2 separate regions of the Homo sapiens genome follow, and region 1 is linked to region 2. Evidence: fine-mapped expression QTL. Tissue or cell type: whole blood. Region 2 holds a variant in brackets; the other region holds the start of a gene. All regions are shown on one strand. Distances are from middle to middle.

Region 1 (5,000 bases), 21 kb before region 2:
AATAGGCAGCCTTGCAGGATTGTTTTAAGATACAGCAAGGAAATATAATTTGGGGTAAAATACTTCAATTTCCTTCAGGGCCTTGATCAGTCACATAATGCTCTACTAGAAACAGGCTAGAATTTGGTATCATTGCTACAAAGAGTCAGCTTTGTCAGTCTTTTATTGTTGTTGTTATTTTGAGATGGAGTCTCGCTCTGTCACCCAGGCTGGAATGCAGTGGTGCAATCTTGGCTCACTGCAACCTCCGCCTCCTAGGTTTAAGCAATTCTCCTGCCTCAGCCTCCCGAGTAGCTTGGATTACAGGCGCCCGCCACCATGCCCAGCTAATTTTTGTATTTTTAGTAGGGATGGGTTTTCACCATGTTGGTCAGGCTGGTCTCAAACTCCTGACCTCAAGTGATCCACCCGCCATGGCCTCTCAAAGTGCTGGGATTACAGCCATGAGCCACCACACCTGGCCTGGCTTTGTCAGTCTTAAAGTCTGTGTTGATATTAATGATGGTCAGGTGGGCCTGAATTCCCAAAGGGAGGAGAATATAATGAGGCATGTCCAACCCCTACCCCTCCACATCCGACCCTTCCCATCATGGCCTGAACTAGTTTTTCAGATTAACTAGGGAATGCCCTTGGCCCAGAGGAGGGGTCCACTCAGATGGTTGGGGGGCTTAGAATTTTATTTTATTTTTATTTATTTATTTTGAGACGGAGTCTCACTCTGTCGCCCAGGCTGGAGTGCAGTGGCGCAATCTCCGCTCACTGCAAGCTCCGCCCTCTGGGTTCTTGCCATTCTCCTGCCTCAGCCTCCCGAGTAGCTGGGACTACAGGCGCCTGCCACCAAGCCCGGCTAATTTTTTTTGTATTTTTAGTAGAGACGGGGTTTCACCGTGTTCACCAGGATGGTCTCGATCTCCTGACCTGGTGATCCGCCCGCCTCGGCCTTCCAAAGTGCTGGGATTACAGGCATGAGCCACCGTGCCCAGCCTCTAGAATTTTATTTTTTGGCCAGGTTTGGTGACTCACACCTGTAATCCTAGCAATTTGGGAGGTTGAGGCAGGTGGATTGCTTGAGTTCATGGGTTTGAGACCAGCCTAGGCAACATGGCAAAACCCCAGCTCTACAAAAAATACAAAAATTAGCCAGGCGTGGTGGCACATGCCTGTGGTACCAGCTACTCAGGGGCTGAGGTGGGAGGATCACTGGAGCCAGGGAAGTTGAGGCTGCAATGAGCCGAGCTGGAACCACTGCACTCCAGCCTGGGTAACAGAGCAAGACTCTGTCTCAATAAATAAATAAATAAATAAATAAGAATTTGGGGGCTGGGTGCGGTGGCTTGTGCCTGTGAGCCCAGCACTTTGGGGGGCTGAGGCGAGCAGATCACCTGAGGTCAGGTGTTCGAGACCAGCCTGGCCAACATGGCGAAAACCGGTTAATATAAAAATTATATTAACACGGTTAATATAAAAATTAACCGGCCACGGTGGCATGCACCTGTAGTTCCAGCGGGAGGCTGAGGCAGGAGAATTGCTTGAACCCAGGAGGCGGAGGTTGCAGTGAACCAAGATAGCATCACTGCACTCCAGCCTGGGTGACAGAGCGAGACTCCGTCTCAAGAAAAAAAAAAGAATTTTGGTTTTGGTTTACACCACTCAAAAGTGCAGGAATTCCAAAACAAGCCGGTCGGGGCACAGTAGAGCACAGACTCTGGCTCCTCCATCCGCCCGCACCCCACCCTGTGAAAGGAAAATAAATCTCAAAACCCCACAATCACTAAGTCAAAGGAAAAAGTCAAGCTGGGAACTGCTTCGGGCAAATCGGCCTCCCGTCTTATTCCTAAATAAGATAGTTACAAATACATATTTTTAAAGCTACACACCTCCCTCACAATTTGCCCACAAAGAAATTCTCTGTGGGCCTCAAGATCTTTACCCTAAAACAGTTCTGTTGAATTTCACCCTGGCAATGCAAATTGATAGCTTCCCTTCACAGGTGCGAGACAAAGGACTGAACTCAAAGCCATCCCTCTGCTCACCTAGACAAATGCATATCTGATCGCTTCCTTTGCTCTACTGTTTACGTAGAAATGAAGATTCAGTAAGCCAGACTAAAGCATAAGCGACTATTCCTCTACCCGCGTCTCACATGCATAATAAATTGTGCAGTCAGCGAAAGGCTGAACAAAGACTCAAAAGAATGCACCCTCCGGTCTCTTCTCTACCTGTGACCTGAAAGCCCTCTCCTGGAATTGTCCAGCCTTTCTGGGCTGAACCAAGGTACACTCGCACGTGTTGATTGATGTCTCACGTCTCCCCAAAATGTACAAAACCAAGCTGCATCCCAACTTCCCTGGGCACCATCGTCACGATCTCCTAGGGTTGTGACACTGGCGTGTCCTTAACCTTGGCAAAATAAACTTTTTACATTTCATTGAGTCCTGTCTCAGATATTTTTGGGTTCATAACCCCCACCCTCACCCCTACCCGCGGAGAGAGCGAGCCGCTCTCCAGCCCCTCCCCGGCTCTACGCAGGAGAGGCCACTCTCCTCTATGGCACGCGCGGCGGCACTCTAGCAGCCAGGTGGCTTCTCTATGGGCTTTTCCGGCACAGGTCGGAAGTGGCGCGCGCTGCCCCGGAAGCACCCTGGTGGGTGGGTGCCTGCCAGCAGCTGAGGCGCCATGGCGGCGGCAGCGGTGTCAGAGTCTTGGCCGGAGCTGGAGCTGGCTGAGCGCGAGCGGCGGCGGGAGCTGCTGCTGACGGGGCCCGGGCTGGAGGAGCGAGTGCGGGCGGCGGGTGGGCAGCTGCCGCCGCGGCTTTTCACCCTGCCGCTGCTGCACTACTTGGAAGTGAGCGGCTGCGGGAGCTTGCGCGCGCCGGGGCCTGGCCTGGCGCAGGGCCTGCCGCAGCTGCACAGCCTCGTGCTGCGGCGCAACGCGCTGGGGCCCGGCCTGAGCCCCGAGCTCGGGCCGCTGCCTGCCCTTCGGGTGCTCGACCTGTCGGGCAACGCGCTGGAGGCGCTGCCGCCGGGCCAAGGCCTGGGCCCCGCCGAGCCGCCGGGCCTTCCGCAGCTGCAGAGCCTCAACCTCAGCGGCAACCGGCTGCGCGAGCTGCCAGCCGACCTGGCGCGCTGCGCCCCGCGCCTGCAGAGCCTCAACCTCACCGGCAATTGCCTAGACTCCTTTCCCGCCGAGCTCTTTCGCCCCGGCGCGCTGCCCCTGCTCAGTGAACTGGCGGCTGCTGACAACTGCCTCCGAGAACTCAGCCCCGACATCGCCCACCTGGCCTCGCTCAAGGTCAGCGGGGGCTGCCCGGGCGGGGCGGGATGGGGCCTTGGAGTAGCCCTGGAGAAGGAACCCCTCTCGGGGCCGAGCAGTTCCTAGTGACGCCCCCTGGGGCACTGGGCCCAGGGAATTCCTACAAGGCTGAAAGGAGCCAGCTGCGGGGGGCATCACCCCTGGGAAGCAGATGCCGCCTTCCAACTCCCCCTTCTCCTGGCCACACCAACATACTAGGTGGCCTCTGAACTCCCCCGCATTCTGTTAACTGGACTTTTACACGTGGTACGCTATTTTGTAATTGTTAGCAAACCTGGCTTCTCCTGTAGATCGAGCGTAGAGACCTGTCTTTTTTGTATCTAGTACTTGTGAAGTGACTTGAGAGTGAGTCTGGTGGTGAAGGGGGCACCCTGGATTTTGCATAATGCCACATGCTGTGATCTTGAAGATTATATTTCACTTCATCCTAATAGCAGCTTTCCAAGGTAGGGGTGGTTATTCCTGTTTTACAGAAAGCCAAAGGGCCTGCCCAAAGTAAGCAGCAGGTAACTTGGGTTTTTCTCCAGACTATATTGTCCAGCGTCTGTTTACTAATTAATCTTGGATCCCCAGGCCCCGCGATAATGCTTGGCCTATAACAGGTGCCCATTGAATCTGTTGCCTAAAAGAAAGTAGGGAAGCCACATGGCAGAACCACGACCTAAACCCAGCCAGATGTTCTCTCCATCTTCTCTTTTGGTTTCATCCTTAAGGCAGTCCTGCATTTCTTCCCCCATTTTTCGTCTTTGAATTTATGCAGACATTTCTTTTTTTTTTTTTTTTTTTTGAGATGTAGTCTGGTCCTGTCACCCAGGCTGGAGTGCAGTGGCGCGATCTCGGCTCACTTCAACCTCCGCCTCCCGGGTTCAAGCGGTTCTTCTGCCTCAGCCTCCTGAGTAGCTGGGCTTACAGGCGCACACCACCACGCCCGGCTAACTTTTGTGTTTTTAGTAGAGACGGGTTTCACTGTGTTGGTCAGGCTGGTCTCGAACTCCTGACCTCATGTGATCCGCCTGTCTCGGCCTTCCAAAGTGCTAGGATTACAGGTGTGAGCCACCGCGCCTGGCCTATGTGGACATTTCTTAATAAAATACGTATACACTTTAGCAGCTTATCTATTTATTTGCTGTAGCAATTCCTCAAGACATTGCAACTCATTTTACAAGTAACATATCTATATAAGGATATATAGACAAACCCTGGCCGGGCGCGGTGGCTCACACCTGTAATCCCAGCACTTTGGGAAGCTGAGGCGGGCAGATCGCTTGAGGTCACACCACCAGCCTGGCCAACATGGTGAAACCCCATCTCTACAAAAATACAAAAATTAGCTGGGCCTGGTGGCGCGTGCCTGTAGTCCCAGCTACTCGGGAGGCTGAGGTGGGAGGATCACTTGAGCCCAGGAAGTGGAGGTTGCAGTGAGCTGTGATACCAGCCTGAACAGAGCGAGACCCTGTGGCAAAAAAAACAAACCCACTGTAGAGTGACACATGGTTACTGATGTAACTGCCCAATGGGTTCATTTTATCCACTACCCGGATAGAGCTGATTTATCAGGGCAGGAGGGTTGCAATAGAGAAAGTTTTACACATGTAGAGCCAGCTAAAGTGGAGACTGGAGTTTTACTGTTATTATTATTGTTGTTTGAGATGGAGTCTCGCTCTGTCTCCCAGGCTGGTGTGCAGTGG
Region 2 (8,125 bases):
GGCACGGTCACTTTCTATGACGCAGCATCTTGTAAAACCATATCATGCCAGGATGCAGCTTGGCATGTGCAAGGGCGTTGGGTTCTCCAGCTGGCAGTGATCATAATCTTGGGGGGAAAAGTTTTAATGTGACCTTAGAATTGGCAGAATTGCGTCTCTTCATACTGCTGTTGGATTGCTTTGTGGGGGTGGAGATGTGGAGACCCCTTCAGGCAAGCAGCCTGTAGGCTGAAGGCAGTGGCAGCACCTCACCCTGGCTCAGCGGGGCCAAGCGGAGGAGAGCGGCATCGGTGGGGTTTCCATCGTGTGCACGCTGGTGCTGCAGTGACAGGCAGGTGGAGCCCCAGGAGTGGACCAGACGCCTCTGCTTGGGAAGCATCGGCAGTCCTCAGCCAGCCGAGGGACAGATGGTAGCAAAAGCTGGAGGATGCTTAGGTTTTTGAGCCAAAAATCTTCATTTATGCGCCAGAAAGGTGGGTCCTGGGCGCCTTCTGTTGTAGACGTTTCCGTTGTGAATGTCCAGGTCAGACCCCCACGTCCATGTGTCTTCGTGTATGTCCAGGCACCACATGTGCGTGCACACCACTCCCGGGAGTCAGTGTGCTTGGCTCATGAGGACACGGCCAGCCACCGCGATGATTTTACAGACCCCACTGCCTTACGATCTGGGTGCCATGTGAGAAGCAGACTCATCAGCTTTATCGAATGACACCATTTGTTCTCTGTTCAGTGTCTCGATTTCTGTGTCTGTAGAAATGACTGGTGATTTTGGGAAGCATCTGCAAGAGCCCCACAGCCCACACACCTTTAGTTGTCAACCTGAGAGGCCCGGGGCCCTGTGCAGTGGGCAGACTAACAGCTGGGTGGCTCTTCAGAGCCTTGCAGGACATGGGCCAGGCTGCCTTGAGACCTGGACCCACTTGTCTGGTCACCGCCAGGCCTTCCCGTCTCGCCCACTGTGGGAGGGAGGGGACTCCAGACAGGACGAGGCCCACACACTCAGTGCCAGCTGGACTGCCGTGGGTGTGTCAGATGACTGCCTTGCCTTGTGTCCTCCCAAAACCTGATTCCTGCTGCTCTGGGCAGTCAAGGCAGATGCCACAGTTGGCCAGGGGCCTGCCCTGCTGGAGGCTTGAGGCGGCACGGGGGCTTCCCCAGGCCAGGACTCTGCTGGAGTTCTGGGGCTGGGGACCCCAGACAGTTGCTCTGAGAGGTGATTTGGGGCTGCCATGGCAGAGGCTGCCCTTTCTCTGCATGGCCCGGCCCAGCCCGGGAAGGAGGAAGGGAGGAAGGGAGGGATGCTGGAGCTGCCATCTTGGCTCCCGGGGACTTGGTGTCCATGCTGTAACACATCTGTCACTGCGTGGGTGTGGATGAGGCTGCCACATGCTGTGCCCTTTCCTGATGCAGCTTGTGATGCGTGAGATGCTGGAAATGTATTTAACTCGCAGCACAGGTGTCTCTGATGTTTTCTTCACCCCACCCCACCCCCCGACTCACTAATAAAAACAGCTCCGCACCTGGCCCAGCAGATCCTTTCCCACCGGCACTGCCAGAGGTTGTTGCTCGAAGTGTCACAAAGCTCACTCTAGCCCAGTGGTGGCTTCTATGTGGGGAGGCTGAGGGCCTCCTGTCCCCACCCAGATCTTGCCAGCAGGGAGCAAGAGGCACCTGCCACTGTCATGGGGAAGCTGGTGCCCTTGACCAGGGGTCCTGGGAACTGGCCTCACCCTGCTGGGCCCCTGCCTGGAGCACAAGGTGGACCAGAGGTGTCGGGCTGCCTGGATACCCCAGGTGCACAGTCAGAGGAGCCCAGGCCCCAGACGCATCCACAGCAGATCCTCCTGTTCGTGAGTCTCTGGGAGGGTAGGCCAGGCGGCCACTCAGCAGGGTCCTGTCCCATCCTCTCCCCAACCCTCCCAGAGCTGTAAGGACACTGCTCAGCTCAGCCTAGGTCCATGACCCTGGGGGTACTGGGGCTGGAGCTGCTGTCTCCACCATGGTCACTTAGGGGACAAGTGGTGTGCCCGAGAGGCGGCTGTGGGTTACTTGAGTGCCTGGCCCAATGAGCACCCGTGGGTGTCTGCCTGTAGCCTCCCCTGCTGGGGCTGGCAGGGCTGCTGGTGGAGCCCCTGGCTGAAGATGCTGGGCCCCTGCCAGGGCGGACCCAGATGCAGCCAGACAGATCCAGGGCAGACCCGACATGCGCCTGTGCCATCTGATGCCAGCCCCTGACAGGTGGGAAGGAGCATTTGTGGGGGTGCGTGGGCATCACTGGCATGCGGGACCCGTGGCAGAAGCACCAGGGCCACTTCCCCTCTGACTGTAGAACTGGGACAGCTCCCATCCCCATCCTGTGCCCTCGCCTGTCTCCTGGGCCGCACCAGTTCTTGGGGAGGCCCAGCCCCAGGACCCCCAGGTCGGAGTGCTGCCTTCTGGGGCCCATGCAGCCAAACTGCTGGGCCCAGCGGCCTCTGCCACTTCCTTACAGCAGCCCCAAGGCAGTGCTGTCCTGTGAAGCTGGGCTTCAGGGAGGGTACCAGCTGGCTACTCCTTTCCCTCCTTGGGAGTGGCAGGTCAGAGGTAGGGATCTCTTTTTGAAGATCCAGGCTGTCATGGGGCTGGGGCAGGCAGCAGCCCACCCAACAACAGGCTCCCAGGAAAGCATCATTGCTTCAGACCGCAGCCCAGGACAGGCCCTTGGGCTCCCTCCTTGGGTTTGGAGCCAGGAGCCTTGGGGCAGTGTGCAATCAGCCATGCAGCTCCACCTGCCACCGGCTGGCCCAGGCAGATCTCAAGTGAGCCTGCTCGCCCCAAAGGCGGATGATGTGGAGTCTGCCTCCCTACCAAGACTGGCGCAGCCCCTCCTGTTTACCTGACTTGATGCTTTCGGCGGGACCTGGCCTGGGGCAGGCGCAGCCTCAGCCCTCCAATAACCTCATCTGGCCCTGTGGCCTCCCTTCTCTGTGCCCGTGAGGATAGTGGCTGCCCGTGTCTCCCACCCCCAGCCCTGGGGTGAGGACCCCTTCCCTAAGGGGATGTTTCTGGCAAGGCTTTTTGGGATCTTTTGTGGTAGGTGAGGGCCAAACACAAGACCCAGGAAAGCACCTACCAAGAGAATGGAGGTTGGGACCGGGGGCTGGGACTGGAGGCCAGGATCGGGGTGGGGGGAATGGGACCGAAGTCCCTGGGACACAGCTGAGGTCCAGCCACATCCGGGTCCCCAGGCCTGCCGGCTGTCCTCGCCAGAGGGCCCAATTGGTAGGGGTGCATTCCTAGAGCCACATGGGAGGGGGGCCTGCCCCGGGGAAACAAGCCCTTCCCACAGCCTTCCTGGATGTCACGCCTGGCCAGGTAACTATGGCAAGGGCTGTCATCCACCGTTCATTCAACAGACACTTAATGCCTCTGTACACAGGCTCTTGGCCCACAAGGAGTACTTGGAGGGACCAGGCCCATCCCTGGGGAGGGAGGGTAGACCCGGGTCCTCCCTGGCAGCCGCCGGCCCCAAGAGGGACACACCCAGCCTCTGCGCGTGGTGGGCTGCCTAGGAAGAACTGTGCCCACTTACTAAGGAAGATATGGTGCATCTGAGACAAGGGCGGGGGACACATAGCCACCCTTACAAAACCAGGAGTCAGAAAGGCCCAGAGAGGACAGGGGCCTGCCCAGGGCCACACAGCTCTGCACACTGCTCCCACGGAGGAAAGCAGCCGGGAGGATCCCACCCCGGGGGGCTGCCAGGGAGGTGGGCTCGGTTTGTCCGCTGAAGGAACCCCTCATCCTGGCCTTCACAAGGGAAGGGGCTGGGCCCTGGGAGAGAGGAGGCTGTAGCTGGGGGCTCCAGGCCGCAGGGCCCAGCCTGGGTGTGTCCTGCAGCTCCTGCTGAGGCTGGGCCCAGGCCTCCCAGCCACGTGTGCCCAGCTGTTTGTAGGTCCTTTGAAGGGCTGTGTGCCAGGTGTTTGTGCGCCCCCGTGTGGGGCCGATGACAGCTGTGCACCTGGTGTCTTCGTGTGCCTGGCTGCCAGCGCGTGTGCCCTGTGCGCTGTGTGTGCCGCAGGGTCCGTGTCTGTGGGGGGGTCCATGTGTACAAGGGGTGTGTCTCCAGGCCTGTGCTCTCACGTGTGCGGCCAGCCCCCCGCGTGCATGCGGGGCAGCATTTATTTGCACTTGTGCACATAGTAGCCTGTGAGGTAGCCCAGGATGAAGATGATCCAGAAGAGGGCCACGCCGCCCAGCACCTTCATGGCGATGCCCAGCTTGCCCGTGCACAGCCTCTGGGAGATCCTGGGGTGAGAACCAACTGGAGGTGAGCCCCAGGCCAGGGCCGCATGAGGGGCCCCCTAAGTGGACTGTGGCCGTTGGTCTGGGTCAGGGGGAGGGGCCTGGGCGCTCTGCTGGAGTCAAGAGGAAGCTCTCCCCGCCCACAGCCAACCAGAGGGAAGGCCAAAGGCTGCGGTTTGCTGAGCTGCTGGACCGTGGGCTCCCAGCCAGGATGGGGTGGAGGGTGATGGGGCCGGTAGCAGGGGTTAGGGCAGGCGTCTCTGGAGGGAGACACCAGCCTGCTATGGCTGGCAGGCTGCCCTCAGGCCCCTCACCTGCGGCAGCGTGAGGCCTCTTCTGTGCTGGACACAGCCCCTAGGCTGACTCCGTCCCTGCTGCCGTCCTCCCACCTACTATAGTGGACGTGGCTCTCCTGGGGCTGCATGCTGTGGGGCTGCAGCGGGAGGGGCGGGGCCTTCTCGGTGGGGAGATCAAGACAGGTGGCCAGGCTGTGGCTTCACTGTAAAACAAGCGGATGGAGGGCGGCAGTCAAGACCCCCTCTGAGGCTGCTGTTAGGAGAGGGGCACTAAGGGTCGGGGGCTGACTCCCTCACCGGGTCTGTCGCCTGACTTAACAGGTGACCTAGACACAAAGTGGTAGAGTCATTTGCCCAGGGTCAGGCCGGGAGGATGGGACCAAGCGAGAATTCCATCTCAGGCCAAGCCCTGACCTCAGGCATGTGGGAGGCCAGTGTTTCCTTCCAGCACACTCCAGGAGCCTCCCTTCCCCGGTGCTTTTATCAGGGAGCCTGCACAGCCTGCCACCCTCAAGAGACGAGGACATTGTGGCCCAA[T/C]CTAGGCTGCAGCCCCTGATAACTGTCCCCCTCCTTAACCCTGCCCGATAAGGCGCCTTCTGGCCTCTGGGGAGGCTGGCCAGGGGAGGGGGGGGTGGGGCAGGGCAGCAGGTCCGGGGCAGCGGCTGGTACAGCTAGACCGGTCCCTGTCTGGGGAGGATGCGTGGCTGGCCCCAGGCAGTGGCAGCAGCTGTGTCCTCAGCCTGTGTGGGTTGCAGCCCCTCCCCCACCCACACCTCTAGGAGGGCTGGGGCTTGGGGGGCATGATGCACTGAGCACGGGGCCGGGGTGGATTCAAGGCCTTGGGGAGGCCCTACAGAGACAGGAGGGTCGTAGGGCTGGGTGGCTGCCCAGAGCAGGAGGGGCCCGGCCCCAAGGCCAGCTCCCTGCTGGGCTCCAACTCCTGCAGACCTGGGACTCATCTTTGCATCTCGGCACTCAGCTCGGTGCCTGGCAGCCCAAGTGCCCAGAGGGGCGAGGAGACCACGGGGACTGAGCAGGAACTCCAAGCACTAGCACAGCTGCCCGGCCGGCCTGAGCCAGCCCGGACTCTAAGCACCTCCTTTACCCTCTGGCCTCTGTTTCGACCTCCTATTTACCTAAGGGGGTGTGGGGGTGGAGGAGTTGGAGGGGGCACGAGAAGTTGACAACCCACCCAGGCTGTGGGACTGGGGTCAGCTCTCTGGTCTGCTGGGCCCCCAGTGTCCCCTCTCAGCATCTGGCCCCCAGGAGTGGGGTCCTCGGGCAGGCAATGGCAGGCCCCTCACTTCTAGGAGCTGAGGCTTTGCTGGGCCCCCTCCAGCGGGGAAGGCTGACCTTCCTCCCAGGTCATCGGCACAGAGGCCTAAAGGCACAGCAGCCACTCCCCTGCAAGAAGCCAGCTCAGAAACTCAGGCCCCAGGCAGTTCTGAGACTCCCGGCACTTCCATGTCTGCCTTCCCCCAAAGCCCAGAGAGGCAGAAGGAGCTGTCTCAAAGCCATAAAGTGTGCCTTCGGTGGGAGCCCTGGCTCAGTGCAGCCTGGCACTCAGGCCCGGAGAGGCCCAGCCTCTACTGGAGTATGGGTGCTGTTTTCCCGGAGCATGTGGAGCGGTCAGCTGCCTACCCGAGGTTCACGCCCTCTTGCCTGGTGTGCAGAATCCCATTCTGGTCCCAGCAGCAATGTGCCAGCCCCAGGTAACAGCCATGACCCGGGTAAGACAAGCTTAATACCACCACCCCTGCTTTCCCAAGTCACCCAGCTGGGGTCCAGGAGCCAGGGTGCAGCAGGGGATGGGAGAGTTTGCTTCTGTGAAAGCAGCAGCAGCCACCTCCTTCTTCCAGACTCGACGTGATGGCTGGAGCTGCTGGAGCTGCAGCAGCCGCCTTGCAACCCGACATCCACGCAGCATTAGTCTCGGGAGTGCTGAGGCTCCAAGTCCACAGCAGCAGCCCACCATGGGCCTCCCGGTGGGAGGGGTCAAGCCCAGTGTGTTCAACTCTGGGATCATGGGTTCCTGTCTTGCTGACGTAGAACACGTTGTTCCCAAGTCACCCCGGTGCACAGCCACCAGAGCCGGCCCTTGAGGCTGGCCTCCCTCACTTGCTCAGTAAACGTCTCTCCACACTCATGTGATGGTCACAGGTGTGGCGGCAGGAACCCATCAGGGACTCCCCTCCAGGCCCTGGGAGGCTCCCGGATCCTGGCACCTCCTGGGGGCTTGTGAGTGCAGGAAGGCCCTAGGTACACAGGCGCCCCTCCATAGACCTCTTCACCCCACAGCGCCTCAGGGCCCCACACTTACCCGGAGAACCTTGCCTGAGGGCTGGGGCCTCTGGGCCAGGTTGCGGTCAGGGCCTGGCCAGCGGCCCGCACCTCCCAGCGGGGCAGGTCGTGGGCTGAGGTGCGGCAGACGCCTCGAGCCTAAAAAAATAAAGGTGACCGGAGAAGCCGATCTTGCTAAGGGCCGGGAAGGGAAAGTGGCTGGTGTCGGGGGTCCCCAGCAGCCACAAGGAGCCGGGCAAGGAGCCGGGCGGGCAGTTCCGGCCCTGGCCCCGCACCGCGGGTTAGGCCGGTGGGGGTCAGTCCAGGGCACGCCCCCACCCCCGCCAGTTCTCAGCCAGCGAGGCCGCGCACAGTCGCACCTGCCCACTGCGGCCGCACCGGGAAGCCGCAGCCCGGACCCCGCGCGCCTCACCTGTGTCCCCGCGTCTCTGGGCTCCGCAGGGGCCGGGCCTGGGCAGGGGGCGAGGGCGGGGGCGGGGCCACGCGGGGAAGGGCTGGAGCCAGCAGCGGGGAGGTGTCTGGTCCGGAAGGTGGCGGGGCTAGAGTGGTGGGCGGGGCCATGCGGGGAAGGTCTGGGGCCAGTAGCGGGGAGGCGCCTGGTCCAGAAGGGGCCGGGGGCGGGGCGAGAGGGGGCGGGGCGAGAGGGGGGCGGGGCCATGCGGGGAAGGGCTAGGGCCGCAGCGGGGAGGCGCCTGGTCCAGAAGGGGCTGGGGGCGGGGCGAGTGGGGCCGGGAGACGCCTCGTCCGGAAGGGGCCGGGGCTCTAGGCCGCCCAGCCCCGGGGCCAGGAGGTGCAGGGGGGCCGGGCAGGGTCTGCAGAGGGCTGCACTTTCTGCCCCCAGACGGCTCGCCCTTGGGGCCTCCAGGGTCCCCGACCTCCTTCACCCCTGCTGGAGCCCCTCCGACGCCACGAGCCTCCCAGCCCCGCGGGGACCCGGCTGCAGCGCCGACGAGACTGCGGGAGGCTCTGGGCGCGTCTGGGCCTGAATGCTGGGTTCGGGGACCCGGCCGCGGGGACCGTCCTCCTCCGGGGCTTGAGGGGCGTGGCGCCCGCACGTGGCCCACGCTCGGTGCTCGCGGCGGGAAGGGAAGCAGGTGTGGGTGGGGAGCAGAGAAGGGTAATGGGGAGAGTCCCTTCCGAAGGTGTTCAGGCGCCCAGAGCCTCAGAGGCGCCGGGGAAGCGTCGGGGACCACAGACACCGTTCCCGTGCGTAAAGCTTTCCTTCCAGGAGCGGGGGGATGGGA

Which allele goes with the higher level. Positions count from the first base shown, and alleles are read on the strand shown. Sizes are in standard deviations (SD) of each study's normalised expression.
With allele C in place of T in region 2, the expression in whole blood of the gene that starts at base 2,655 in region 1 is higher (small effect, 0.24 SD a copy in GTEx).

The links. PIP is the estimated chance that this variant, and not a neighbour inherited with it, causes the effect.
Region 1: LRRC47 starts here. The variant in region 2 is fine-mapped to the expression of LRRC47 in whole blood (GTEx, PIP above 0.99).

Annotation. Positions count from the first base shown.
Region 1 is chr1:3,794,153-3,799,152 of GRCh38, reverse strand. LRRC47 (leucine rich repeat containing 47) reads left to right here and starts at 2,655. Exons shown (of 7, transcript NM_020710.3): 1 at 2,655-3,291. The coding sequence starts at 2,677. RefSeq lists an enhancer at 2,474-2,768 and a silencer at 2,884-3,093.
Region 2 is chr1:3,771,957-3,780,081 of GRCh38, reverse strand. It overlaps SMIM1 (small integral membrane protein 1 (Vel blood group)), which reads right to left and starts at 7,333. Exons shown (of 4, transcript NM_001288583.2): 1 at 7,294-7,333; 2 at 6,901-7,019; 3 at 4,599-4,783; 4 at 4,126-4,287. The coding sequence starts at 4,708. The coding sequence ends at 4,161. LRRC47 (leucine rich repeat containing 47) reads left to right here. Exons shown (of 7, transcript NM_020710.3): 7 at 1-1,523. RefSeq lists enhancers at 4,431-4,490, 4,406-4,921, 5,070-5,214, 5,954-6,469, 6,470-6,985, cis regulatory regions at 5,118, 5,110-5,126 and a silencer at 7,047-7,926. The variant T/C (reference allele first, on the strand shown) is at 5,118.